7 linked regions of the Homo sapiens genome follow. The protein of the gene in region 1 interacts with the protein of each later gene in a biochemical or structural test. Each region holds a gene or a part of one and is shown in the gene's direction. Other genes may lie near its edges. The genes, in order: NHERF1, LNX1, FAM20C, DGKZ, TAMALIN, MPP2 and APBA1.

Region 1 (4,253 bases):
GAAGTGGCTCTCCAGCTCTGCCCACCGGCTTTGCTTTGTGGATGGCCTTCCCCGCCTGCCCCGTGGGGAGAGAGGAGCAGCAAGACCCGCCCTGCTGTTCCCCTGCTTAAAGCCCTCCTCCCCCCATTCACCACCAGTCACAGGATGAGGCCTAAACCCTTGAGTCTGGGTTCAGAGTGCCGGCCGGGCAGAGCCGAGCCAGCTCAGCTGTACTAGCCAGGCTGTGCGAAGCCAAGTTACCTCACCTCTGTAAGCCTCCATTTCCTCTTGTGTAAGTTGGGGGTTATGGCAGCTACCTCGGAATTGCATGAGGCTGTGTGTAAAGCACGTAGCTCAGTGCCTGGCACTGAGTCCAGGCTCAGCCAGCCTTTGCAGTTGGTATTGGAATGAATACATATTTCATAGTGATCATTGCACACCTATCATGGGGCAGCTAGCGCTGGGTCAGCCTGCCTAGTTGGGCAAATGCCACTGTGGCCAAGCCTGGCACACAGTCAGTGCCTGATCGATGGTCACTGTGGGTTAAGAATGATACGTTGTGGCCAGGTGTGGTGGCTCACACCTGTAATCCCAGCACTTTGGGAGGCCAAAGTGGGAGGATCGCCTGAGCCCAGGAGTTTGAGACCAGCCTAGGCAACATGACAAGACCCTGTCTCTATTAAATTTTTTCTTTTTTTTTTTTAAGAGTTATATGCTGTTCCATGGCCCTTCTCCATCTGGCAGCCTGTTCTCACCACTGCCTCCCTACCCCCAAAACCACACCCAGGGTCCGAATTCCCCTCTAGCCTCTAAGCCTTCACACCCTGACACTTCTGTCCCCTCCCAGGGAGCCTGTCCTTAATCCAGTAGGCAGAGTTAGCATTTCCTTTCCTTCACTTTTTTTGTTTTTGTTTTTGTTTTTGTTTTTTTTGAGACAGATTCCACCCAGGCTGGAGTGGTGTCGCAACCTCGCCTCGCTGCAGCCTCGACCTCCAGGGCTCAATCGATCCTCCCACCTCATTCTCCCTAGTAGCTGGGACTACAGGCATGCACCACTATTCCCAGCTAATTTTTAAATTCTTTGTAGAGATGGAGTTTCACCGTGTTGCCCAGGCTGGTCTTGAACTCCTGGGCTGAGGTGATCTGCCAGCCTCGGCCTCCGCCTCCTCTTTGTCCTTACATCTTTTATCGCTCTAAACACACAATATTTTAATCATCTGTTTGTGACCTTTTTCTCCACTACGTGGTAAGCCCAAGGGCATCAACTGTGGCCTATTTGTGTTTCTATCCCCAGCGCTGTCCTTGGCACATGGTAGGGAGGCTCTCAAAAACAGTTTTTGAATTAATGAATGAATATATAACAACAGTCAGGGACCTTTGTCCTCATTCAGCTCATCCCGCCCCGCCCAGAGATTGGAATTCCAGATAGAACCTACCCACTCTTCTTTCTTGCCTGCTAGCAGCTTCTATTTGAAAACTAGAAAGCCAAAAGTCCAGGCTTTGGGGTCAGCCAGATCAGTGTTTGAATCCCAGCTCTGCCGTGTGCTGGTTCTGGGATCCTGGGAGTTCATTTTTCCCTGCAACCCTCAGCCTCCACCTCTGTGAAAGGCACTGCCTGCAGGGTTATTGGGAAGATTTGGTGGCATGACAGGTTTGTAAATGAAAGTGCTAGTTTGGGGTGTTTCCTGCCAGCCCTGACCCTGATCCCAGAGTCAGAGTGCAGGCACCCCAGGGAGCAAGGTGGGTGGTGGGGCACAGTTAGCTGGAGGGCCATCAACCTCTTTCCCAGGGCGGGCGGGCCATTTTACACCAACCAAGTTGGAGCTCTGGTAGGGCAGAACAGAGCTTGAGCTGCTGGGTGTTTGGATTTGAAATGGACAGGGTATGTGATTGTTTGTGTGTTGGGATCTCTTTCTTTGCTGGCAAAACAGTGTAGCCCCTGGTTCTTACCTTCAAGCTCCTGTTAACTCAGTAATTCTGGAGATGATTCTCTTGGAGATAGATGGGGGCTTCCTGGCCGGGCGCAGTGACTTGTGCCTGTAATCCCATCACTTCGGGAGGCTGAGGCGGGAGGATCGCTTAAGCCCAGGAGTTTGAGACCAGCCTGGGCAACATAGTGAGACCTCGTCTCTACCAAAAAAACAGGGGGAGGGGGGTGAATGGGGGCTTCCTTCTCAAGGAACTCCATATGTCTAGATGGGGTCCTTCTCCCCTTTCCCAGATGTCCCATCTCAATGGTCCCTGGGAAAGTGGGGTGGGAAATTAATAAGAAACTCAGGCCAGGCACGGTGGCTCACGCCTGTAATCCCAGCACTTTGGGAGGCCGAGGCGGGTGGATCAGTTGAGGTCAGGAGTTGAGGTCAGGAGTTCAAGACCAGCCTGGCCAACATGGTAAAAACCCATCTCTACTAAAAATACAAAAATTAGCGAGGCGTGGTGGCAGGTGCCTGTAATCCCAGCTACTCGGGAGTCTGAGGCAGGAGAATGGCTTGAACCTGGGAGGTGGAGGTTTCAGTGAGCCGAGATCGCGCCACTGCACTCCAGCCCGAGCAGCAGAGTGAGACTCATCTCCAAAATAAAAAAAAAAGAAAGAAGAAGCTCAGCCGAGGTCTTGTTGGTGCTGCAGGACTCTTTACAGGGAGAAACCAGAGCTCTAGACCCCAATAACAAATGTTCCTCTGTTTTCGTTGCTCTAAGATAGAGTGGCCCTACCTGGAAGGAAACAGGTTTGTACAGTGCCTTTAGGCACTCTACCTATGACATAAAGATGTTGACATGCATTTCTTTCTTTCTTTCTTTCTTTCTTTCTTTTTTTTTTTTTTTTTTTTCCTGAGACAGTCTTGCTCTGTTGCCCAGGCTGGAGTGCAGTGGTGTGATCTCGGCTCACTGCAACCTCCGTCTCTCAAGTTCAAGCAATTGTCCTGCCTCAGCCTTCCATGTAGCTAGGATTACAAACACCCGCCACCACACCCTGCTAATTTTTGTATTTTTAGTAGAGACGGAGTTTCACCACGGTGGCCAGGCTGGGTGGCACCTGTCACAACACCCTGCTAATTTTTGTATTTTTAGTAGAGATGGGGTTTCACCACATTGGCCAGGCTGGTTTCAAACTCCTGACCTCAGGTAATCCACCTGCCTCGGTCTCCCAAAGTGCTGGGATTATAGGCATGAGCCACCACACCCAGCCAATATGCATTTCATTGTCCCCCAGACAAATTAGCTATTGTTTTCTCTATTTTGTAGGTTGACAGTAAGTGTTCAATACATGATAGCTACTATTTGTGTCTAGCACTGTGCTAAGTACTAACCTTGCCTGTCTCATTTAATCCACATGACCACCAGTGAGGCAGATATTGGCCCCATTCTCTGCCTATGGAGGCTGAGGCTTGATCAGTTAAGGTGGCCATGGCGGGTCCCAGGACTCTGAGCTAGCGACTCCTCCCACACAGCGCAGGGGTGTGTCTTGGAACCCAACCCTCTGACTCTAGTGCCTGCACAGCCATTTGGCCACATGAGTAGGCTGTGCTTGAAGCCTGACTCTGCCAGGTGTTTCTGCCCATCATATTCTGAGCCACAGCTGGACCATCACAGTGGTATAAATTCAGGCTGCTTGAACTGGCTTCCTGTAAGGATCCAGGGCTTCCAGGTGCTCCTGTCCCTAGCAGGGCATCCTTGCAGTGCCTCAGCCCATAAGTGGCAGGCTCCTGTCCCCATCCCTTCTCACGTGATGTGATAGGTCAATCTGGAATCTGGTAACCAAGTATCTACCCCCGCCCTCACTCCCCAGAACCTGCACAGAGAGCCCCCCTCAAGGGTGGTCTTCACTGTTGACCGAAGCCTTCCCCTCATGGTAGGACAACTCACCATGTCCCCAGACTCCTAGGCAATGTTTAGGTCCCTAGGCCCTAGAAAAGGACAAGAGTTACAGATTCCCTGAGGTCCAGGTCACCTCGGGGTGGTGTGGGAACACACAGAGAATGCTGGCCAGGTTCAAGTCCCACTCACTGCTGGGTGCTGAGAGCTCTGAATTCTCCGAGACAGGCTGCAGCCTCTCCCTGTGCTAAGGTCAGGGGAACAGCAATGGCCAGGGGTATTTAGAGGAGTGTGTTTGGGGCAGTCTCAGGCAGCACAGGTCTGTGCTGTCCGGGCAGCAGCCACCAGCTTCGCGAGGCTCCCGGGCACTCGAGATGTGCTGGTCCACATGCAGACGTGCTGTGTGTGCAAAATGCACACCAGATTTTGAAGCCATTGTACAAATAAAAGGATGTACAATA
Region 2 (4,253 bases), on another chromosome or scaffold:
TGACCCATTGGATGTGATTGGCCTTGTCATGCAATACCCTGTGCCCTTGGGTGACCTTGAGTCATTGCATATGAGCAGTTGTGTGCCCAGGGCCCTGGTCACTTCTCTGGGTCTCGCCCTTCAGGGATACCACAAATTTTCATCATTCAAGAGTAAGGGATTAGTGGATTGAGGTCAGTGGGTTCTACTGTTCTACTAGCTTGCCTACGGAGCCCTAAGGGAGAACCTCAACCCCCCTGCATGTCAGTTTCCTTAGCTACATTTTTCCCCAAAGGACGCTAAAATGGTGTACTTCACAGGCCCCCTCCATCCTTACAACTGAAGCAAGGTGGGCTGCATGTCCAGGTGGGTAGGTCAGACTGACTGGGGGGACTGGGTAGTGCCTCACTAGAAAATATCAATCTTATTCATTCCATTCTAGGTGGGGCAATGCTACTGCTTTAGAATAGTGGTCTGGTCTCTGGCATCAGGCTGCCTACCTGGGTTTTTGAAACCCAGATCTACCATGTGCTACCTGTGTGACCTGGGACAGATTCTTTAAGCTGCTCTCATCAGCTGTGTAATAGGGTTATCATGAAGATGAAATGGGTTGAAATGTGTAAAGTGCTTGGAATGGTACCTGCCACAGTGTTACTTGTAAATATTGAAAGGAAGGCATAGTTGATAGTATCAGACAGGTCTGTGTATCAGACCCAGTTCTACCATGTAGTTGCTAGCCTAAATAAGTTCCTTAATATTTCTTTGCTTTGGTTTCATCAGCTGGGAAATGAAATACTTCCCAGACTCAGAGCTGTTGGGAGGAATAATTGAAATAATTACATGGAAAGTGCCTGGCATATTTTAAATGTTCAGTGAGTGTTAACTATTGTTATATTATTTTAAACATTTTTATATTGCTTACAGTTAGACATCTTAGGTCATGCTACTATCTGGATGTAATAATGATGGAAACGGTAGTACGTTGAGGGCCAAAGACTGAGCAAAAAAAGATTTCCCAAAAGGCTCCCAAAGGCAGAGGAGGAAAACCTGTTAACAAAGATTGTGTTGTTTCTCTTGGAGTTCCAGGGTAGAGTGGCTGCCAGTGGAAATGCCTGGTCTTTCATAAACCTGTGGGGAGTGGGCTTCTGTGATGTGAGTAAACAGCGGGTCTTCCTGGAGCGGTGATTTCCTGGCTTCACCTGTCACTGTCTCCTTGTCTCCAAGACCTTGGCTAAGACTTCCTTTCTATATTTGAATTCCTCACTTAAAGTGGAGAAAATAGGGTCTGGTGGGATCTTGACTACTTTTTTTTTCCTTTCACTCTCTTGACCAGGATACGATCTTGACTACTCGAAATGCCGTCTGTAAGATGCTGGCAAGGCGAGGACACATAAGAGATGCTCTAAAGTGTGTCCTCCTCATTGCCTCAGTATTCATGGACTTCCCAGTAGCATACAACTATTCCTAATATTTATGTACTGACATTACATAGACTCTCTTTTATGTGGTTGGCAAATTTATTGTCCTCTGACAATGCCTCCAAAGTATCAAAGGCTTTTCAAAACTGTTTGGAAGGAAGACTGTGTCACTGTTCCTGGGTTAATATGATTTAATCATTAACTATCCCCAAAGAATAGGGTTGACATGAAAACCATAAAAAAACCATAAAATGTGGAAAACTACACTGAGCTGAAATCAGGAACAGAAAACGTTTGTTGTCTCCCGTAAACTTTCTGTGTTTACCCTTTCCTCCATTTTGTTCTGTGTGACATGAGGACACCACAGTGACCTATTTGGTTAGTTACACAGATACACACTTCAGATCAGTAAGAGGAAGAACTTTCTATGAATTAGAGTTGTCCGAAAATGTAGTAGGTTGCCTTTTGGGATACTGAGTTTCTTGTCACTGAAGGTGATCATTTTTTTTGGCATATTTAGTGCATGGTGTATGTTTGCTGGATGAGTGAATGAATTAATAAATGAATGACAAAGAGGATTTGTGTTTTTCAGCTGCACATACACTCATCTGTAAAGTGAAGATTACCTTAATGATCTCATAGGATTATTTTAGATTAAATGAAAAAACATGTTGAATACCCAGCACAGTATCTTGCATATTGCAAACTGCTCATTAAATAGTAATAATCATTATTTTTTATTTTATATTCTAAAAAGAATTTCTGCCTCAGGTAGAAGGTAGACAAGATGATCCACCAATTTGAGATTTGCAGTTTTTACAATCATCTGTTTACTCTTGTTCTCTTTGCCTTTGCCCTTCTTCACCTATCCATCTGAAAGAACTTCTCTCTGCTCTAGAAAGCCAAGTTCCTTGGCATGGTAGGCTGACTAGTACACTTCTAACAGTGGGAGCAAGTTCTATCCCAATTAACCGGGGACATTTTTGGTAACATCACTAATTTGTGACTTAGAATATGTGGACTTAGACTCCATGATTTTTTTCAAGTGACTCTTATTTGCTTCTTGTGTTTGACGCATTTGTCACAGGCACACAAAAGACTTCACCAGCAGCAGAGTCGAAACTCTCCAAGAATTTTCTTTAATAGCTTCTTGGCACAATAGCACATGCATGATGGGGAGGTCTAAATATGTCATTGCTATCTGCTGAGATGATTTGCATAACTTGCTTATGACTGCTTTTGACAGTCACGTGGCCTTTTCTGAATAGAGCGCAGCATGTTTAGGCTCCTGCATACTCGCATGAATACATGAGTCACCATGTGTTTTCAGACTCCTCATTAAATATGATTGTCTGACTTATATTACATCTTCCACAACATACACACACTCAGCCATTCTATCTGTGGCCTTTTTTTTTTCCCTTGAGGCCCTTTGCAAATTTAGTCTAACAGTCATCTCTGAAAGCATCTGTATTCTAACTTATTAATGAATTAAAGGGAAATTAATACATTTTCTAATAGGGTAGAGTTGCTAAATATGTAGCAATCTATGTGGCTGCTGTCTCCAAATATTTTTCCCTATTTCTAAGCCCTATAGAGAAGTGTTGGAAAGGATCGTTGGGAGCATTCACCCCATTCCTGCAGGAATACCCCTGGAAATATGTAACCCCTGTATTTCTAGGGCTGCCATAACAAATACCCATAAACTTGGTGGCTTAAAACAACTCCCATTTATTGTCTCACAGTTCTGGAGGCTGGAAGTTTGAAATAAAGGTAACAGCAGGGCCACACTCCTCTGAAGGCTCCAGGAGAGGGTCTTCTCTGGTCTCTTTCAGTTTCTAGTAGCTCTAGACATTCCTTAGCTTGTGGGTGCATAATTCCAATCTCTGCCTCTCTCCTCACATCACCTTCTCCTCTGCGTTTGTGTCTTCTCCTCCTGTCTTATAAGTGTCTAAGGACATCTGTCATTGAATTTAGGACCCACTCAGATAATCCAGAATGATCTCATCTCAAGATCCTAAACCTCATGACACCTTCTTAGATCGTTTTCCTGTAAGGTCATAGTCACAGGTTCTGGGGTTAAGACATGGATATATCTTTTGCAGGGACCCTCATTCTACCCACTGTATCCCCAGCTGACAACCATATACACAAGCTCTTCCAACTACTTATGGAGAGATTTCTTGTCCACTTGGAGGCTGAAATACTGAGCAAAGTACAGGCAAGGAGAGTCAGAATTGGCAGCCATCATCACTACCTTCATTTATTTCTATGTTCATGCCACAGTAGTAAGTGTTTTGTACTCTAAAGGCCTACTGAGTTCTTCCAGTCAACAGTGTGAGATATCTAATAAGACAAAACAGTAAAAACCATCATAGATTGCATTAGTAAACACATAGTATCCTGGTTAAGGAAGTGATCACTCCACTGAATCCTGAGTCCTCCAAACCAAAACAGGATAACTTCACTTCCAGGTACGGGTTTTCAAAGGGACCTTAACAAACTAGAAGGCATCCTGGGTAGATCTTTTACCACCATCTGGACTACCCAGGAAGACAATTGGAAGAACCAAAGACAAAGATAAAAACAAGGGAGGAACCACCCAATGCTGTCTTTAATTTGGGGATGTGTGTGTCATGTTTTGAGTAAGCAAATGTGATATACGTTACACTGAAAGGCAGAACAAGGCCAAAGGTCAAAGTAACGTGGGAAGCACTAGCTATTTGAAAAACTGACCAGTTCTCCATCAGTGGAAGTGTTTCAGATAGAAGCTGGTAGGTGCTGTAGGGATCTTGAAAAGAGGATTTTTCTACTTGGTGAAAATCTAAGTTCCTTAACCGATCAAAATCCTATGAC
Region 3 (4,253 bases), on another chromosome or scaffold:
AAAAAGGAGCCCCGTACCATGAGCAGGCGGTCACCGTTCCTCACCCCGCAGCCCTCGACGAGCAGCGTCCCACCCCCAGTCTATCTGGATTTGCCTGTTCTGGGCGTTTCATATTAAGAGGGTCATACGACGTGTGGCCTCCTCTGTCTGGCCTCCTTCGCGGAGCACAGGGTTCTCGGGTTCAGTGAGGGCTTCATTCCTCTTCTTGTTTCATTTCGTTTCGTGTCATCGCACGGATGGACCATGTTCACCTGGCGTGTCCACTCCTCTCTTGATGGACATTTGGGTGGATTCTCTCTTTTTCGGCTGTGGTGAGCGGTGCTGCTGTGAGCATTCGTGTCTGAGTTTTTGTATAGAAATGTTTTCTCTTCTCTTAGGGGTTTACATGGGAGGGGAGTTCCTGGGTCACGTGGAAACACTGTGTTTAATCAGTTGGGGGCTGCAGACCGTTTCCGCCGTGGCTGTGCCGTGTGCACCCCCCGCCAGCAGCGCACAGAGGTGGCGGTTCCCCCGTCCCAGCCGGCAGCTGCTCTTTTGATGGAAGCCATCCCAGCAGACAGGAGATGGTGCCTCACCGTGGCTTTGATTTGCATCTCCCCGGTGACTCACGATGGCGCCCGTCTCTTCTCATGCTTGTCGGCCATCAGGGTCGTCTTTGGAGAATCAGCTGTTCAAGCCCTCTGCCCATTTATTAGTTTTTTTTGTCTTTTTGTGATTGAGTGATGAGAGTTCTTCATACACTCTAAATGCTAGATCCTCAGATGTGCGGTTTGCAAACGTTTTCTACCATTCTGTGGATTGTATCTTCACTTTCTTGACAATATGAATGCATTTTTTAAAAGACTAAATGTTGGCCCTAGGGTTTCCATAGACCAGCCCCTGATTTTCGAGGGTTCAGGCCGGGCTCTGCCTCTGGGGAGCTGTGTGGCCTCGGGACGTCAGCTCTGTGGGTTCATTTTTCTGTACCGTGGGGTGGAGGTGTTTGCTGGGATTGATGGGGAACTGTGGGTGAGTCCTGCCCATGAGAAGCACCAGGCAGAGCCCGGCCCGGCCTTGGGGGCCGTGAGACCACAGGTGAGGACGCAGCCCTGTGCGGCCCTGGTAACCCGCAGCCTGTCCCTCCCCAGCCAACAACATCTGCTTCTACGGCGAGTGTTCCTACTACTGCTCCACGGAGCACGCCCTGTGCGGGAAGCCAGACCAGATCGAGGGCTCGCTGGCGGCCTTCCTGCCCGACCTGTCCCTGGCCAAGAGGAAGACCTGGCGGAACCCTTGGCGGCGTTCCTACCACAAGCGCAAGAAGGCCGAGTGAGTGCGGGGCCGGGGGGCTGGCGTCCGGCCACCCTACGGCAGAGGGAGCTGGGCCTGGGCGGGCATGGGAGGGTCGGCGCCCACGGGGGTGGCAGAGATGGGTGCAGAGCCTGCTGTGCGATGCTGGCCTGTGTGAGATGACCGCTTCCTGATGAGACGGTGGCAGAGGGCGTCCTTACTCCAGTATTTCCATGTGCTTCCCTGACCCGGGCCGGCCTGCCCACCAGGTCCCTCGAATCGGGGCCTCTCAGCGTTTGAGCTCTGCTCTCGCCCCGTCCCTCTCCTCACTCCTGCGGGAGAAACGGCCCCTGTTCTTTCCGCCCCACGTTGTCCTCGTGAGTGTGTAGTCCAGGTCCTGTTTCCCCACAGAGACTCTGCAAAAAACACGGGGCCCAGAGGTGAAGGCAGCTCCAGGTGGGGTCACCCCGAGGCAGGGCAGAGCGGCTCCGTCCCCTCCCACACCCGTGCTCCCGCTAATGCAGCCTCAGCGCCGCAGCCCGGGCGGGTCCATCTGCAGACGCCAAGGTCCCTGCCGCAGTGTTTCTCTTCTGCTCCTCATGGCACGCGCCGGGCTCCCCAGAATCTGGCCTGGGCCCCCCGTCTCACGCTGGCTCCCCGCAGGTGGGAGGTGGACCCTGACTACTGCGAGGAGGTGAAGCAGACACCGCCCTACGACAGCAGCCACCGCATCCTGGACGTCATGGACATGACGATCTTCGACTTCCTCATGGGTACGTCCCGCAGGGGCACGGGGTCCCCGTGTCACTCGCCTTGCGTGGAGCGGATGCACGCAGGGCTCTGCAGGGCACACTCCGTGGCACGGCCCGGCTGCGGTCCTGTGGCCTGTGAAGGGGCCAGATTGCTTAGAGGTCACGCTGGCAGGAGGAGACGCCGCTCTGCAGAGCACAGAGGCCTCTGAGCTACGTGGCCCGGCTCCCCACGAGCTGTGACACTTTCTGCCTCTCTCCGCAGGAAACATGGACCGTCACCACTACGAGACTTTTGAGAAGTTTGGGAATGAAACGTTCATCATCCACTTAGACAATGGAAGAGGGTGAGCCTGTCCTCGCCCCTGCACACCCAGGGAAGGGCCGGCCACCTCCCAGCTACCTGCAGCCCACCTGAGACCCTGGGGACGGGGGGAGCAGACCCTCCAGTGGAGGGATGGGAATGTCGCAAAGGCCCATCTCAGAGCCAGATGCAGAGGGCGGCCCCAGGCCCCAACCAGGAGGGAGGGCCGCCCCGGGAGTGGGACCTCCGAGGCACAGGAATGCTGCAGACCAAGTCCCGGCAGAGCTGGTGTTACCTGGGAAACGGAGGCCAGGAGAGGCTGCTGGTAGGAAGAGCAGGACCGTGCAGAATAGATGGGCCTCTGCCTGCACGCGGTACCTGGAGCCAGCCAGCGGGGGATAGGCGGCCTCTGCGGCCGCTGCTGGCCTGCCACGGGGGGTCTTGGGCGGCGCTGTGAGACCCTGGTTACCAGGGAGGGTGACCCCTAATAAGCAAAGCATGGAGGCGAGTAACTCGGGCAGGAGGACGTCCATTCCCAGGCTCGGAGGCCTCAGAGAGATGGACTTTGGGCACTTCAATAGCTAAACTGTGGGCTGACGCTCCCTGGAGCCATCTCAACTCGGCTGCCCAGGACCCTTCCCCAGGCCAGAGGCCAGGACCCCACATACAGGGCTGGGGACAGGCGGGGTGGACCCACTGCCTGGGGTGCTGGAGATGGGCAGGGTGGACCCACTGCCCGGGGTGCTGGAGATGGGCTGGGTGGACCCACTGCCCGGGGTGCTGGAGATGGGCAGGGTGGACCCACTGCCTGGGGTGCTGGAGATGGGGCTGGGTGGACCCACTGCCCAGGATGCTGGAGATGGGCTGGGTGGACACACTGCCTGGGGTGCTGGAGATGCCCGGGGTGGACCCACTGCCTGAGGTGCTGGAGATAGGCAGTGTGGACCCACTGCCTGGGGTGCTGGAGATGGGGCTGGGTGGACCCACTGCCCGGGTGCTGGAGATAGGCAGTGTGGACCCACTGCCTGGGGTGCTGGAGATGGGGCTGGGTGGACCCACTGCCCGGGGTGTTGGAGATAGGCGGGGTGGACCCACTGACTGGGGTGCTGGAGATAGGCAGGGTGGACCCACTGCCTGAGGTGCTGGAGATAGGCAGGGTGGACCCACTGACTGGGGTGCTGGAGATGGGTGGGGTGGACCCACTGCCTGAGGTGCTGGAGATAGGCAGGGTGGACCCACTGCCTGGGGTGCTGGAGATGGGTGGGATGGACCCACTGCCCGGGGTGCTGGAGATGGGCAGGGTGGACCCACTGCCTGAGGTGCTGGAGATGGGCAGGGTGGACCCACTGCCCGGGATGCTGGAGATGGGTGGGGTGGACCCACTGCCTGGGGTGCTGGAGATGGGTGGGATGGACCCACTGCCTGGGGTGCTGGAGATGGGTGGGATGGACCCACTGCCCGGGGTGCTGGAGATGGGCTGGGTGGACCCACTGCCTGGGGTGTCGGGTACAGGCAGGTGGACCCATGGCCCAGCTCCCAGCCCAGCAGCCTGTTAGGAACCTTGTACAGGGGCCCTTGACAATTCTGCTTTTCTTCTGGAAGGTTTGGGAAGTATTCGCACGACGAGCTCTCCATCCTGGTGCCGCTACAGCAGTGCTGCAGGTACAGCCCCTGCCGGAGCCGGCTCCAGCTCCACCCTCCTCCCTACTGCGCAGGAGACAGAGGAGGCCACAGCCTTCCCCACCCCACCCCGGCCATCACATGGGAGAGAAAAGGCCCCGAATTCAACCACAGCCCTGAATTCAACCCACACCCTCACTCGGCGGCCTGGAGGCGCAGACCTCACCCGCCCACCACCCCAGGCCCATCCAGCTCGAGCCCCCTCGGGCCTCCACTCTGTGTCCGTCCTGCCACCCCAGTTACAGAGAGAG
Region 4 (4,253 bases), on another chromosome or scaffold:
TCAGAAATGAATACATTCAGAGAACCCAGTAGTATCAGGCAGAGAGCAGCAAGGGAAAGCACTTTCTCCTGGCAGGCCTGGGAGCTCACTGGGGCTGGCCTCCTTCCCTTTGACTTGATGGGGCCAAGGGGTGGGTGCTGGGGGCAGACATGTGGAAGGGTGGAATAGTACACCTGCTCTGGGTTCTGCCCCCTCCAATGCTGCTTGGCTGGTCCTGCTACCTTTGTTTGTTTGTTGCAGCCTCAGGTAAAAGTCCTCGAAGCCCCAGCTGAAACCAGCCCTTCATCTTATCCCAGCTCCATGCTAGCTCTTAACCTAGCTCTTGCTTCTCCCCAGTCATCCACCCCATGTCCCCCATCCCGCCCCCTCCCCACCCCACCCACATACACACATCCAGCCTTGGGGTTGAGGGGCCCGACGGGAAGATCAAGGGTAACAACTAGGTTGGCAGTGGCTGCTGAAGCCAGGTGGAGAATTCTGCATGCGGGCCCTGGCTCATGGGGAGAGTTCCATGAACAATTAGCAGTGTCTGCTGTGGGCTTGGCAGGGGGTCTTGATGGCACATGGGCCACATGTTTGCCATCCTGGCCCCTCTGGGTAGGACAGTCTCTGAATGGCAGCCCCTGTGGGGCTGAAAGAGGCTTTTCCTTAAAGTCCATCTCTGCCCCACACAACTGGCGTCATCCTCTCAGAATCGGGGGGTGGCAGCTTGCCATCTCCCTTTTTTTTTTTTTTTAGCTCAGTGAGCCATGATTCTCCCCAGCTTGTGGATTCCTCCCACCCCAACTGCATCCCACCTTACTTCTTGCCGGAACTATCAGTCTCCTCCCTGAGGAGGAGGAGGAGGAGAGGAGGTACAGGCCCCTACTCTGATCCCAGGGTATTTAGTTTTCCTCTACCCTGAGCAGAGGGCAGGCAGGACCTTTCCATTTAAGCTTCTGTTGACCCTAAGGATTGGGCAGCCAGGAGTGGGAGAGAAGTGGACTCTCTCTCCTCCTCCAGGACCCACCGGGAAGGAGGACCCGCTTATCCTCTGGCCTGGTCTCAGCAGCCTGATCCTGGCAGGTCACAGGGCTTCTGGATTAGCTGGTTTTACACCCCAGGGGCATCAGAAATTACCTGGCACCTCACACATGTAGACATAAGGAGCCTTGGCCTCAGAGCCCCTAGGAGCCTGAGCGTCTGTGCCGCCATCCCCTGCCCTTCACGGTGCTCAAAGTCACAAGCTCCCAGAGGGCAGGAGGCACACCTGCAGAACCAGTGTGAGACAATGGGTCCCATTTAGAGGCACTGCCACACGGCCCCAGCGAGCATGGCCCTGAAGTCAGGGCTGCAGAGGGTGCCCAGCGGGTGCCTGAGCAGAAGCAGCCCCTGTTTGAGTTGGTTCTGCAATGAATAGGGAGGGACGTGTTGAGGGACGCCTCTTTTGCAGAGGTGAGAACCCTGTCTATGGTGCCAGGGTGTCTGGGAGCGAAAGGAAACCTCTTTGAGTGGTTTGTCTCACCTGGGCTAATGCTGGGAGCAGCCCAGGTTGCTGTGAGAGGCAGGGACAACCTAGAATCCTTGGGTTCCAGCAAGTTTGGGAAAGAAAAATGGGCCTCAGTGGCCGAGCTGCGTTCATCTCACTGTGTTTGCTCCCCACACAAGGTCAGGTGCCAGAGTATACAGCTGGCCCCTGCTGGGAACCCAGTGTAGAATTCTCACAGTCTCCCTCTGTGCCAAACGCTGTCAGGGGAGGGAATGACAATTCTTGTCATTTTGTCTCCATGCCATACTCCAAAAAGGTCAGATCCTGGGATGTGGAGCTGCCCAGGATTCTCGGTTGGCACAGGAGCTTGAGAGTTGGTGTCCCCTCAGGCAAGGACAGAGGAAGGACTAAGTGACCCCTGGTGAGAGAAAGCTGAGGCTCCAGGCAGCTGGGCTGGGGGAGAGTGAGAGAAACGGGCCTGCCCTCCTCGGCTCCCTGGAGGCCTCTCCAGAATTCGCCAGTGGCCCCCCCGGGGCAGAGGTGAAAGTGGAGTCATAGGTTAGCCCTGAGTCTTAGGCCGCGCGGGCCCCTCGGAGAAGCAGGGATCCGGAGCCCTTCCACCCACTTTAAGGCAGGAGAGAATTGGGAGGTGTGGAAGCAGCCCCTGGAGGCTGCCCTGCAGTGCCTCTGGAGCGACACAAGGGGGCGACAGCTGCCGTTGTGGGAGGCCGGTGGGCGAGGAGCTTCTCCTTCCGCCAGTCCACAGGCCCACGGGGACCCACAGGCACTCGCTGGAAGTTACCTGCAGCTCTAGCTGCCGGGCGGAGCCAATCAGTGCGGCCCAGGGCAGGCTGGGTGGGTGCCTCTAGCCTCCTGGCCCCACCCCTCCCGTCCCCTGAGGCCCAGGCCCAGCCAGGTGGCCTTGACTCAGCCAAGTTCTCGCAGCTAGCCGGGGTCATCTGGGACTCCCGCGCTGGGCTTCCAGGGCCATGTTCATTAAGGCCTCATCACAGGACCCAGGACAGGCTGACCACCTCTCCTCCCTGCCCCCTCTGCCTCCTCCTTGAACAGCCCTCTAAGTCAGCTGCGGGGGCAGTGTGTGCAGGAAGCGGGATCTGCCACACCTGCGGCCAGGTTCTTCCGCTCCCCGAGTTCCTGGGCCACCCCTGAGCGGTGCCAGGCACTCATTCCTTGCTCTTCTTGGCTCTCCTCTGTTCCGTGTCGGGGTCAGCCCCACATCCAGCCTGCAGTGTGGGTTTCAGCACAGGACTTGGCTGGCACTTGGGTCACAGGTGTGGAGGGTAGGCCAAAACTAACCAAATGCCCTGGAAGAGCTATCATTCTGCCATCTTTCCTCTTCACCCCCTGCCTCGCTGAAACACCAGAGACGTGGTTAGGTCGGGAAAGCAGGTTCGAGTGAGACCAAGGGCTCTGTGGCCGCGGAGGGGAGGGAGAGGCTGAAGAGACAGGAGTGGCGTTCCAGCTCCTCTGTCTTTGGTGATTAACAGCTGCCAGAAGCTTGTAAATTCATCAGTTTCATGTGATCTTCATAACATCTTTGTAGTTGGTTTGATTCCCATTTTGCAGATAAGAAAACCAAGGCTCAGAAAGGTCAGGGGCCTGGCCAGGATCCCCCAGCTCACACTGGAGCCCAGCCCAATGATCTTCTCATGACATTGGGCCACTCTACTTAGGAGTACTCTTTTCTTCTATTATTTGCCATCCCTAAACTGGGAAGACCTAAGAAGAGGTTTGAGTGCTCCATGGGGTTTAGTGAAAGGTCTTTGCCTCCGGTGCCAACGGTGTGAGACCCATGAGATAATCTGACCTGGACCCCCAAGGGAGAATGGCCACCAAGATCCCTCAAGTCAGGGGAGCAGGCTGGACTGGGAGAGACCCTTGGTAAAGAGACTGGGGCTGTGAGCCCGTCATCATGTGGCGTCCGGGCTGGGTCTGGCGTGGAGGACAAGTCTGATCTTTTTCCTTGCTTTAAGGGCGCAGGGAGTCTAAAGCCCAATGGACATGCTCAGAGGAGCCCCCATACCACCCAGGGGTCGGTGGCTGGTCTGGGGCAGGGAAGATCGCTTCACTCGTACCCAGTGCCTCATGGTGAGAGGTCTGAGAGGAGAGGGAGGGCCCCAGCATCCTCCTCATCTACACTGAGACCTCCTCCCCTTGCTCCTGGCAGAGCATCAGTTCAGAGCTCCCACGTAGAGGCCTCTCCCCTGCCAGGGATGAGCCCATCTCAGCACATGCCAAAATAGCTGTCTGGGAGCCTGGGCCCGCACCGCCCACACCCCAGCATCTCGCGGGTTAACAGCTTGCCTGTCTCTCCGCCCCCTTCCCCAGCTTGCTGACATTTTACAGAGAGAGGCGGGGGCGGTTGTGAAAGGGGGCAAGCTGGTTCTTGCTCCCCAACCCACACGGACACCCCACTGACACAGCCTGCCACCACCCACCCACCTCTGGAAGGCATCCCCTTGGGGGAGACCTTCCTTCCATCCTGAGGGCCCTGAAAGGGTGAGGGACAGGCTGCCAAAACCATCCCTGGTAGACCCAGGGAGCTCTAGGGGGCTGGTCTCCCTCAAGGGGTCTTTTGTAGGACACAGGATCTCCCTCTGTCACCCAGGCTGGAGTGCAGTGGCACAATCATAGCTCACTGTAATTTCAAACCCCTAGGCTCAAGCAATCCTTCCACCTCAGCCTCCCGAGTAGCTAGGACTATAGGTGGGGGCCCCCATACCGGGCTCATTTTTTCTTTCTTTCTTTCTTTTGTAGAGACGAG
Region 5 (3,975 bases), on another chromosome or scaffold:
CCCGGGTTCACGCCATTCTCCTGCCTCAGCCTCCCGAGTAGCTGGGACTACAGGCGCCTGCTACCACGCCCGGCTAATTTTTTGTATTTTTAGTAGAGACGGGGTTTCACCGTGTTAGCCAGGATGGTCTCGATCTCCTGACCTCGTGATCCGCCCGCCTCGGCCTCCCAAAGTGCTGGGATTACAGGCGTGAGCCACCGCGCCCGGCCGGACAGAACTTCTTGAGGGCAGAGTGAGGGTGTTGGGTGTGTGAGGTCCCCACCCTTTGGCTGGGGTGCTGGGCGTGGACAACCTGGTAGTCACTACAGGCCCACAAGAATGGCTGTGGTTCTGTGTGTTTGGATCGAGTATGAGAGATGTCAGAGGAGATCTACAGAGAACCATGAGGAGTTGGAGGAGGGAGTTCAGGAGTATTCCCTGGAGTTACTACCCACCCTTCTCCCCTTTCTGGCTAAGGTAGGAGGCTGGTATTCTAGCATGCCCCATGGAGCAAATCTAACCCCCTTGTCTGCCTGGCAGGGGACACCATCGCCAGCGTCAATGGCCTGAATGTGGAAGGCATCCGGCATCGAGAGATTGTGGACATCATTAAGGCGTCAGGCAATGTTCTCAGGTATGTCTGGGAGCCGAGGTGCCTGAATTCCTGAGCTCAGCCTCTTGGTATTTCCTCAGCCTGTGGCTCACTCAGGCTTTGATTCTCCAACCTCAGACTGGAAACTCTATATGGGACATCAATTCGGAAGGCAGAACTGGAGGCTCGTCTGCAGTACCTGAAGGTAGGGGAACCTAGATAACGTCCAGCCTCCACCCTCCTCTTCCCAAGCCTCTGCCCTGTGGGGGGTCACTTACAGCTGAATCTCCTGTAACTGAAGATTTCTTTTGTCTACTCCCTGATCCCTCGTCTGTACCCACGTCCTGCTAGTTTCCTGCTAGCTTGTGACAGTGGGGTGGGGACTGTCTCTTGCAGCAAACCCTGTATGAGAAGTGGGGAGAGTACAGGTCCCTAATGGTGCAGGAGCAGCGGCTGGTGCATGGTGAGTAGATCCCGGGGTGTGAGGGGCCACTTGTTCTGCTACAGACACCCCATCTGCGCTTCCCCCTCAGAACTGGCGGGTTCTAGTAAAGAACGGTTTACTAGTAAACCTCCACAGTAAAGCAAGGTTTGTTGAGCTACTACTACTTTGGGTACTGCCGCAGCCACATTTCTGGTTATTCTCACACTAGCCCTCTGCAGGTAAGTAACAGATAGTGTCATCTTCACTTTACAGAGGGGAACACCAGGGCTCAAAGAGTTTGTGTCAATTATTTCCGAGGCCCGTTTGTGCTAAGCGGCCCCCATAAGGATCTGAGTGATAATTCCTGATTTGCGGGTGAGGGAAGTAGGGTCTCAGGTTTGTGCCTGGCCAGGGCCACAGAGATGGTCAGCAGGACGGAGCGGGGACGCCCCGCCCATGCCCTCCGACCCTTTGCAGAGGCCACCACGGTCCAGGCCTGACCCGCCCCCTACCTCTCCCGTCTCTGCGCAGGCCTGGTGGTGAAGGACCCCAGCATCTACGACACGCTGGAGTCGGTGCGCTCCTGCCTCTACGGCGCGGGCCTGCTCCCGGGCTCGCTGCCCTTCGGGCCTCTGCTCGCCGTGCCCGGGCGTCCCCGCGGAGGCGCCCGACGGGCCAGGGGCGACGCCGACGACGCCGTCTACCACACGTGCTTCTTCGGGGACTCCGAGCCGCCGGCGCTGCCGCCCCCGCCGCCCCCGGCCCGCGCCTTCGGCCCGGGCCCCGCCGAGACCCCTGCCGTGGGGCCGGGCCCTGGGCCGCGGGCCGCGCTGAGCCGCAGCGCCAGTGTGCGGTGCGCGGGCCCTGGCGGGGGCGGAGGCGGGGGCGCGCCGGGCGCGCTCTGGACTGAGGCTCGCGAGCAGGCCCTATGCGGCCCCGGCCTGCGCAAAACCAAGTACCGCAGCTTCCGCCGGCGGCTGCTCAAGTTCATCCCCGGACTCAACCGCTCCCTGGAGGAGGAGGAGAGCCAGCTGTAGGGGCGGGGGCGGGCAGGGAGGTATTTATTTATTTATTCGCAACAGCCAGCGCTAAAAGAGGGGGAGGCCGAGCCAAGAGGACCCCAGGAGCCCAGAGCAGCGGGAGAGGGTCCTTCCTAGCCTCGGCCCGCCGGGTCGGTTCCTGGCTGGTGTCTGCTGAGGGAGTGGGGGGCCCAGCCCCTTCTCTTCTCCCCCGCCAAACCACAGTGGGAGCTGGGGCAGGGGGAGAGCCAGGCAATCGGGGGCCAAAGATGGGGGTGCTCGCCTACAGTCTGCATCTGTAGTGCCTTGTGGGGTATCCAGGAACACCCTCCCAGCAGGGGATGGGAACCCTGTCCCATGAAGCCCTCTCCTCAGCTTTACTTGCTCCCCCGCCCTTAGCCTTGGGGAGAAATGGCCCGTGGTGGGCTGACCCCCCACCCTCCACACACACAGTTCCATGACCCAGCGGGCCCCCAGGGGCATCAGGTGCTGGTCCTCCTCCCTCCTGGCCTCGACCCCTAAGGGCTTCGCCCCTCCCAGGGGCCTGTAACTAAGTCGGGTCCTGCCAGGCAGGGGGCCTGTGTTCTGTGCCCCTTGGGAGACAGGAACTGGCGAGTTCAGGTGGGGTGGGGACAGCACAGACTGTTCCACCGTTGTGCATATTGTTGCTTCTGAACCACAAACTGTATAAATGGATGGTTTTTTGCATCTGTGTCAGTGTGGTGACTGCCTGAGGGGGAGGATTGGGCTGGGGCAAGCTCTGACTCCACCATCCCAACCCCCGCCCAACGCACACACATCTTGTTTTCTTGCAGCCTGAAGCCAGGGAAATAGGCTGGGAGATTTAAACTTACATGTATGGGCCTGAGCTGGAGGCCCCACGCTTCTTCACAACTTGAGCCTCCCTCCCCAGATACCCAAGCAGGTGGTGACCAAGGCTTGCCTCAAGTCCTTAGCCATCCCTGTAGAAATACGTGTGCTTGGCATGCCTTTCTTCCCAGCTTCTGAGGTCTCCCTTGAGGGGCACAAGCCAGATCTGTAGGGACCTGAGGCATTACCACCTGGCCTGTGAGGGGCCCAATCACGGCTCACTCTGTTGTTCTAGCAGTCTTCAGCGGTTTCCCACCCCAGGATGAGATTTTTCTTTTTTGAGATGGAGTCTCCCTCTGTTGCCCAGGCTGGAGTGCAGTGGCCCGATCTCAGTTCATTGTAACCTCTGTCTCCTGGATTCAAGTGATTCTCCCGCCTCAGCCTCCCGAGTAGCTGAGGTTACAGGCAGGCGCCACCACACCCAGCTAATTGTTGTATTTTTAGTAGAGACGGGGTTTCACCATGTTGGCCAGGCTGGTCTCGAACTCCTGACCTCAGGTGATCTGCCTGCCTTGGCCTCCCAAAATGCTGAGATTACATGCGTGAGCCACCGCGCCCGGCCTCCCAGGATGAGAGTCTGACCCCTGCCGGCCTCTGCTTCTTACTCCCCGCTCTGGCTGCGCTGCTGGCTGTACCTGGCACACTTCAGACCCCTTCTATCAGGGTCTGTGCTCTTACCCCTCCCACAGGTGGCTCCTTCAGTCCTCAGCCCTGCCTCCCGAAGACCTTCCCACCCAGTGGTAAATACAGTCATGCCCTCCCCTGTGACAGCCCTGTTTTATTCCCATCAGACTGTGCATCGCCATCCGAGACTGTCTTGACTTTTATGGGTTTATCTTTGCCTGCCCGCCCCACCCGGGAGGATGCACGCTTCTTGCACAGGGCTCAGGAGCCTTGTCTGTCTTCACTGCTTTTTTCTTGCCTGATGCTAGCACATGGTAGACCCTCAATACAGTGTGTGCCAACATGGTGTGTGCTCAAGCATCTCCAAGTGGTAGTCACGACCTCTTTGAAGTGACCTGTCGGGTCATACAGCAAGCTAGTGTCAGAGCTGGGCCTGGGACTTGAGGCCCCTGCTCCAGTGCTCCTCC
Region 6 (4,253 bases), about 31 Mb from region 1:
TCTCCTCCATCCCTGGGTTACTGTCCTGGTGTGTAATTCTACTGTCATGGCAACCAGGGGTGCAATGCGACCTGGTGCCACTCCTCAGGGAATGTCTGAGTGGAGGCTGCAGTACCCTGATGGTGGCCTCTTGGGCACAAGATCTCAGAGGAATGGGGTCACCGGAGCGGAGCTGAGTCCTTCCCTTCTGCCCACACTTTTCCCTGTGTGCAAATGTGCCCTCATTTTTCCTTTCTGGGGAACTGAGTTCCAAGATGCCTGACTTGCTTCCTGGGCATCATCCCCTTCATTAAGAGGAAGAACTCATGGGAGATGGGGGAGGGGAAGAAGCTGCTGTGAGGCGAGGGGTAAGCAGGGCTGGGGCACCATCCCTACCCACAGCGATGCCACCTCCCCCACGTACCCTGCCTCCCAGTGGCTGACCAAGGGTGGGTAGGGGGAGGCGTCTGAGGCTTGAGGTATTTGCCCCATGCCCAAGTGAGGCTGCCTCCCGGTGGAGGGCTGAGTCGTTCTTGGGGACTTCCTTAGACTGAGGGACTATTGTAAAGGAAACAGGGCCTGGAGAGGGGACTGAGAGCAGAGGTCAGAGGGCATAGGGAGGAGGTGGCATGGGGTGTATTAGAGGAGGGGCTTCTAGAAAAGAGGGTACAGGGACAAGATGGGCCAAGACTTTTCTCCCTCGGGTCTCCTGAAGCTGGCTGTGAGGGGAGGGTCTCGGAGTACCGCGCCAGTCTTGAAGGGGCAGCATGCCTACCCCCTCCTCAAAACTTCCTGTTAGCCGCCTCCTCCCCATCCCCACCGACACTGACATGCTGGGGATCGGGCAATCTGTGGGACTAGGGCTCCCTCCCACCACTCTTCTCCCACCCGGGTTACCGCCTGCTCTGCACCGCGCAGCGCCAGTCAGGGCTTTAGCCAATCAGCAAGGCGGTCACGGCGGCTGAGCCTTCCCATTGGCTGGTTCCTCAGAGGGCGCTCCTCGACTCCCGCCTTCCCCAGCCCGGCCAGGCTTTGGCTGGGGAGGCGGTAGACGGCGGCGTGTAGGACGCTCCGGGAGTCCCCGGGTCTGGGGGCCGCCATGGCAGGCAGCCCAGGCAGCGGGGTCTCCTTGGAGGGTATATCCCTGGAGTCTTCTGAGGAAGCGGAGCTCCAGAGGGAAGGTAGGGAAGGGCGGGCCAGATGGGGGCGGGGCAGCTGGCCCCTTAGCCTACCTTCCTCCAGCAGAGTCGGGGCATCTGGGGAGGGTGGCCTGGGAGAGGTCATCTGAGGGCACCTTCAGGAGAGCTGTCCTGGGCAGAGGGCACCAACTCCCTTGGCTCAGTCCTCCCCTAGATAACGGAGGGAATCTGGCATACCCTGGCAGGAAGGGAAGGGTCCCTGCCCTGGCCTCTTTCAGAGCCCACTGAGGGCCTCGCAGGTCTCTGACCAATGCCAAGCCCCGGCCTGGGCAAGAGGGGTCTGAAGGGCAAGCTTGCACTTTTTTTTCTGGAGAAGGCAGGGAGCAGGAGGAGGAAGGAGATGGGAGTCCAGGAGTCCCTGAACCATCTCTGCCAGCTCCAGTTCCAGTGCCCCCTCCTCCCCACTCCTGTTCCTTCCTGGAGGAGGGGGGCACTGACAAGAGCATTGAGAGGCGCCAGGGGTGCATCCTCCGCCGTCCTCCGTGGCTTGGGTACTGTTATGCAGATGTAGGCATGGGCGGCATGGTGGCAGAGTAATGATACCCTTCGCCCATCTCTGCCCCCAGCTGGGCACATTCTGCTTCTCGCTTCCTTTCCCCGGAACTTGCCACAGCCTGGAACTCCCACCTCTGTCAGTGAGTGAAGGCAGCCCTCACCTCAGGTCTCGGGGGCATTGTTGCGGCCCAGCTGCAGGTGTTATCGTGTCCTCCATTATGTCCCATTTCGGGCTGAGAGTTTGCTTATCCCTGTGATGACTTGGTGTGACCTCAGCCTTTGGGTCACACCAAGGCCTCCAGTGCCTGTTTCCCTAGCTCCTGCCAGCGTTCCAGGCCTCAGCTTTGACTTCCTATCATCCATGTTAATTTCTCAGTGATTATAGATCATTGTCACTCAGAGCTGAAGGCCTGTAAACATCATCTAGCCCAATCCATCCATTTTACAGGCAGGAAAGACTGAGGCCAGTGAGGGACAGTGACTTGTACAATGTCACACTGAATTAGTGGTGCTTAGACTGGAGGCTGCAGGCCCTGGCTCCTGTGTGGCTGCCTGCTTGACTCTGGGCCTGTACTCACGGACTTGCTCCGAGTACTGTCTGTCTCATCCTTGAGCCTGCCAGGTACAGGTGGCTGAGCCCTGGGCTTCAGCCCATCTAGAGGTTGAGTGAGGAGCTTGTGGTTTTCTTTTCTTTTTCTTTTTTTTTTTTTTGAGACGGAGTCTTGCTCTGTCGCCCAGGATGGAGGGCAATGGCAGGATCTCAGCTTACTGCAACCTCCGCCTCCTGGGTTCAAGCGATTTTCCTGCCTCAGCCTCCCGAGTAGCTGGGATTACAGGCGCCTGCCACTACGCCCAGCTAATTTTTTGTATTTTTAGTAGAGACAGGGTTTCCCTGTGTTGGCCAGGCTGGTCTTGAACTCTTGACCTCAGGCAATCCACCCGCTTCGGCCTCCCAAAGTGCTGGGATTACAGGCGTGAGCCACCGCGCCCGGCCAGAGACAGTCTTGCTCTGCCACCCAGGCTGGAGTGCAGTGGCGTGATCTCAGCTCACTGCAATCTCTGCCTCACAGGTTCAAGCAGTTCTCCTGCCTCAGCCTCCTGAGTAGCTAGAATTACAGACCTACACCACTATGCCTGGCTAATTTTGGTATTTTTAGTAGAGATGGGGTTTTGCCTTGTTGCCCAGGCTGGTCTTGAACTCCTGGCCTCAAGTGATCCACCCAACAGCTTGTGGTTTTCTGGTGCAGGGCAGGATCTGCAACCTGACACCTGCTTCCCTTTCTCCCTTCTCTCCACCTCAGAGTCTCTTCCAGCTGCCTGGAGCCTCCCACCTGCTCAGGCTGGCATTACCTAGGGTGGAGAGAACAGGCCAAGGAAATTGTCCCCTTCCTCCAGGATCCCTGTCCCAGGCATTCAAGGGCCTGGGGTGCCTGTGCTGGGCAGGGAGGGGAATGTTGCCGGGGAGGGGCTGCCTTCTGTGGGACATGGGGGTGGGGAAGTGGCAAGTATTGTGGTGTGTTTTGGTCTTCTGTACCCAGCTGGTACCTGTGTATCTCACTGCCCGTACCTTCCCCCAGCCATGCAGCAAGTCCTGGACAACTTGGGATCCCTCCCCAGTGCCACGGGGGCTGCAGAGCTGGACCTGATCTTCCTTCGAGGCATTATGGAAAGTCCCATAGTAAGATCCCTGGCCAAGGTACAGTGCTCCAGGGAGGTGGGCACAAGGGCACTGTGCTTGGGGAGGCACAGTAGGGGATGGGGTATTAGCTACAGAGGGCTTTGGGAATGGGACATGTGGCACAAGAGGCCCCCCTGAAGGGGATTGTAGAAGAAAATCATGCCCAGGTGATGACCTGAGTGGCTGCAGGTAGAGGGGGCTGCCCCCACACCTGTCTGGTGAGTGCGTGGGTGGATGTTTGTTGACTGCCAGCTTGTGGAGTGTGTGATTGGTGCGGGCTAGCATGCACATGTTGGAGAATCTCTAGAATTCATCTTGCCTGTCCTTCTGCCTTTGGGCGTTTTGTGTGTATGTCTTTCTAAGGTCACCTGCCATGTATCAGGTTGGGGAGAGATTGACTAAAAGAGAAAATTATAGGACAATTTGGTAATGACAGTGATAGAGGTGGATACACTATGCATTTTGGGAGCATAAAGGACAGGTGTCTAACCCAGCCTGGGGTGGGTGAGGAGGGCTTCCTGGAGGAAGGACCACTTGAGCTGAGTGGAAGAATGAGGAAGAGGGGGAGGGCATTCTGGGCCACAGAAGAGCTTGAGCAGAAGCACAGAGGTAAGAAAGAGTCAGGAGTGTGCAGGGGATTGGAAGGGCTGGTGTGAGGCTGAGCCTCAAGTGTAAGACAATGCGAGCTGTGCAAAGGTTGGCAGGTCTGGAGGGCACTGGGGGCTGTATGTGGGTGCTTGGGCATCCTTCTGTGAGTATCAGGGAGGCTTTATGGTTTTTTTTGTTTTGTTTTGTTTTGAGAAGGAGTTTTGCTCTTGTTGCCCAGGCTGGAGTGCAATGGCGTGATCTTGGCTCACTGCAACCTCCACCTCCTGAGTTCAAGTGATTCTTCTGCCTCAGTC
Region 7 (2,923 bases), on another chromosome or scaffold:
CTGTCAGTCATCACTGCTGTCATTGATTTATCACTGCTGTCAGTCAACACTGCTGTCATTCATTGCTGTCAGTCATCACTGCTGTCATTCATCACTGCTATCAATCATCACTGCTGTTCTAGGGCTGATTTGTCATCCTTGCCTCATCTGCCAAGAGAGATGAGGGAGGCAGGCACCCTGAGAAGCCTGGAGCCCTTCCTCCATTTTCAGAGTTCTTGCTTTTAAAAGGGTAGGGTCTGGTGAGAGCGAGAGCATTTGACTGAGAAATAAGCCTTGCTTGGTTTTTGTTGTTCATTTCTGTCACCCCTAAGCTTTTGAGAAAGTCAGTGGATTCCACTGTTCCTGGAGGCCACCCTGGGTCAGGTCCCTGGTGGTGGCTGGGCGGTAGGGAGTATCTTCAAAGCCCTCTGTGGGAGAGGCACTGCCTCTCTGGCCAGCCCTGGGCAGTGCCCACGCAGCCAGCCCCCAGCCTCAGCCCCCCACTAAAGTGTGTTCTTTACCCTCAGATTCATATGAAGACAATGCCAGCCGCGATGTACAGGCTGCTGACGGCCCAGGAGCAGCCTGTTTACATCTGACCGCGGCCACACGCGGTGGCATGCATGGAGGACTCTCCTCTTCGTGGTTGTGTTTCTCGTGCTGCATCCCTGTGTCCACTGAGACTTTCCCCTCTCGCGCCCAGCATTTGGTTTTACACAGGAAGAGAAGAATCCACAAGGACCTCTTTACTCTCTCCGATTTGCTTTTTTTTTTTTTTTTTTTTCAATACCAGGGAAGTTTCGTATGCACTCCCTTGAGGATGGAGAGCAGCCAGCACCCACCTGGTACTGACCCAGGACCATCCTGGAGGGCTTTCTGGGTGTGTCCAGGGGGTGGGCTGTCACTGCTTGAGGGAGAATCCTCCCTTCCCAGGAGGTGCAGACTTCTTAAAAGGAGCTCGCGGGGCAGCAAAGCAGCTGATTCAGCAGTGCCTAAAACCCAGTTGCTGATCCCTGCTCTCTGAGTTTATCTGTGGGAATGTGGTAGTACCCAGGGCCAGCCCACGTCATTAAGGTTATGCACTGCCTGCCATGTAGTTGGGGCACCATACATTATTTCTTCCCAGAATCTCTGAGCCAACCTTAAACCTCTTCTATTGCTAGTTCTAATTTCAACGTATGTGTGTTTTCTAATACGAGCCTTCTCACCCCAGGATAAAAGGGGAAATAACTGCCTTGGGCAAGGACACCATAGTGTCACAGAGAGCTTGGCAATTCATGGGGCATCTGAAGCTTTACCAGGTTGTCCTCAAGTTATCAACCATTAGATAAACACAGGCAGGTACTGTCTGCTTCTCTCTCTCTCACACACACACACACACACACAGTCCCATTTGCATATCACCCTTCCCTGCTCCCACCACCAGTGAGACAAGCTGAAGATTAGGCACACAGATCCCCTGGAAACCCACCTCTCTGGAAGGCCCCTTCCCTGGCAGGTGGCCAGGCAGGCGGGGGCTGCTCAGCCTCATCCTGAGAGACCTGCCCTCTCTGCGCTGAGGCCCAGCCCCTCCAGCACCACTTTGGCTTAAAGCATCCTCCTCCTGGACTCCCCTCCCTGCCGAACACACATCCCAGGAGTCTGGGAAGGAGGGACTGTTCCCAAGAAGGCAAGCTGCAGGTGCAATTGCGTCTTGTTTTCTGGCCCAAGGCAAGACCAACTTTCTTCTCTGCTCAGGGCCACTAGGCGGATGTGATATTGGAAAGGCCAGAATAGTACATAAACCACAAAATTAAGGAGACAATAGCAACCTCAAGTTATGCCTCAGAATCCCCAGATGTGGTCCATAAACACCCTCTTGCTGCCTTGTGGGCCTGAGAGCATTTTTGGCTGGTGTGGAATTGTTCCGTGTTTTCATCAGGTGCCTCATATTTATGCTTCCGTCTCAGTTCAGTGTAGATGTTTTAGTAATATTATAATTCTGAGCCAGTTTTCACTTGGTCCAAAGAGCATTTTGTGTTCATGTGAGGTGTGATTTGGCTTTGCTTTTGTTTTGTTTCATTCATGACCTCAGTAGAGACAGGGGAAGAGAAACTATTATATTTTGTAATTAATATAGTCCCTGTTCTCTGCATCCGAGATATTTATGTTGTGTCTATGGAAATAGGAACTCAGTGAGCAAATGGTGGGTAGCATGTATTTATAGAGAGAATGGAGGGATTCTAAGGAGGGAGCAAAGTGACTATAACAAGATTAGGGACAAGAGACTTCAACCAGAGAGTTCTGTGATCAATTCCCCGAGATCTCTGCATCTTCTGAGTTTTCTGCTTAGAATCAGGGAAGCTCAGTGCTTGACAGGAACGAGCAGTGGCACTCTCAGTTTCACTGTGTTACAAAGGAGCCCTGAGGAAGGGAGGCCGCTGGCTGCCCAGGTGCCCTGGGGGGAAAGGGACTTCTGCTGCTGCAGAGAGTGGCACCCGGTGGGGCCAGGGGCTCTGGGATGGTCCGTAAAGCTCCCCAGGACTTCTTTGAAGGATGCTTTACAGAATGTTTCTGGGAGACCAGCCTCAAGGTCAACCCATCACAAACGTGAGGACCAGGAAGGAACCATGGCCAGGGTTCTCCATTTGCTGTAGAGTATCTGGTGATACAGTGAGACACTAAAGAGTCATCAGCCAGTTCATCTTTCCTCTGCCAATAAGAGTGGATAGAACAGGAATGAAGTGTTACTGGTGGTATTTCAGGCATCAGGAGCCTTGGAAAATCATCGTAGGGGCCCATGCCTGTCTGTCCCTAGGCACCTGGGCAGTGCCACAGAGGCCCGCCCACGACTGGCCAGGGGACAGAACTCCAGTAGTGCATCCCTGTACAACCTGCACATAACGGTTATGTATGTTCACCTAAAGGAGAGAATATACTTTCTATTCCTATTGCACAAAAACCT

Evidence for each region.
Region 2: the proteins of NHERF1 (region 1) and LNX1 interact in a test that uses a peptide from one of them, tested with the Homo sapiens proteins (one large-scale study listed by IntAct).
Region 3: of the proteins of NHERF1 (region 1) and FAM20C, one has a biochemical effect on the other in vitro, tested with the Homo sapiens proteins (one large-scale study listed by IntAct).
Region 4: the proteins of NHERF1 (region 1) and DGKZ interact in a test that uses a peptide from one of them, tested with the Homo sapiens proteins (one large-scale study listed by IntAct).
Region 5: the proteins of NHERF1 (region 1) and TAMALIN interact in a test that uses a peptide from one of them, tested with the Homo sapiens proteins (one large-scale study listed by IntAct).
Region 6: the proteins of NHERF1 (region 1) and MPP2 interact in a test that uses a peptide from one of them, tested with the Homo sapiens proteins (one large-scale study listed by IntAct).
Region 7: the proteins of NHERF1 (region 1) and APBA1 interact in a test that uses a peptide from one of them, tested with the Homo sapiens proteins (one large-scale study listed by IntAct).

What each region holds. Positions count from the first base shown.
Region 1 is NC_000017.11:74,751,613-74,755,865, forward strand, and holds part of NHERF1 (Na(+)/H(+) exchange regulatory cofactor NHE-RF1), read left to right. Parts: intron 1-4,253. UniProt on the Homo sapiens protein: Scaffold protein that connects plasma membrane proteins with members of the ezrin/moesin/radixin family and thereby helps to link them to the actin cytoskeleton and to regulate their surface expression. Necessary for recycling of internalized ADRB2.
Region 2 is NC_000004.12:53,584,702-53,588,954, reverse strand, and holds part of LNX1 (E3 ubiquitin-protein ligase LNX), read left to right. Parts: intron 1-4,253.
Region 3 is NC_000007.14:254,722-258,974, forward strand, and holds part of FAM20C (extracellular serine/threonine protein kinase FAM20C precursor), read left to right. Parts: intron 1-1,127; coding exon 1,128-1,308; intron 1,309-1,932; coding exon 1,933-2,042; intron 2,043-2,283; coding exon 2,284-2,365; intron 2,366-3,924; coding exon 3,925-3,984; intron 3,985-4,253. UniProt on the Homo sapiens protein: Golgi serine/threonine protein kinase that phosphorylates secretory pathway proteins within Ser-x-Glu/pSer motifs and plays a key role in biomineralization of bones and teeth.
Region 4 is NC_000011.10:46,350,135-46,354,387, forward strand, and holds part of DGKZ (diacylglycerol kinase zeta), read left to right. Parts: intron 1-4,253. UniProt on the Homo sapiens protein: Diacylglycerol kinase that converts diacylglycerol/DAG into phosphatidic acid/phosphatidate/PA and regulates the respective levels of these two bioactive lipids.
Region 5 is NC_000012.12:52,013,168-52,017,142, forward strand, and holds the end of TAMALIN (protein TAMALIN), read left to right. Parts: intron 1-519; coding exon 520-613; intron 614-709; coding exon 710-776; intron 777-967; coding exon 968-1,034; intron 1,035-1,526; coding exon 1,527-2,032; 3' UTR 2,033-2,722; downstream 2,723-3,975. UniProt on the Homo sapiens protein: Plays a role in intracellular trafficking and contributes to the macromolecular organization of group 1 metabotropic glutamate receptors (mGluRs) at synapses.
Region 6 is NC_000017.11:43,897,378-43,901,630, reverse strand, and holds part of MPP2 (MAGUK p55 subfamily member 2), read left to right. Parts: intron 1-66; exon of another isoform or gene 67-347; intron 348-1,006; exon of another isoform or gene 1,007-1,078; coding exon of another isoform or gene 1,079-1,160; intron 1,161-3,250; coding exon 3,251-3,369; intron 3,370-4,253. UniProt on the Homo sapiens protein: Postsynaptic MAGUK scaffold protein that links CADM1 cell adhesion molecules to core components of the postsynaptic density. In CA1 pyramidal neurons, required for synaptic KCNN2-containing channel function and long-term potentiation expression.
Region 7 is NC_000009.12:69,428,982-69,431,904, reverse strand, and holds part of APBA1 (amyloid-beta A4 precursor protein-binding family A member 1), read left to right. Parts: intron 1-506; coding exon 507-578; 3' UTR 579-2,923. UniProt on the Homo sapiens protein: Putative function in synaptic vesicle exocytosis by binding to Munc18-1, an essential component of the synaptic vesicle exocytotic machinery. May modulate processing of the amyloid-beta precursor protein (APP) and hence formation of APP-beta.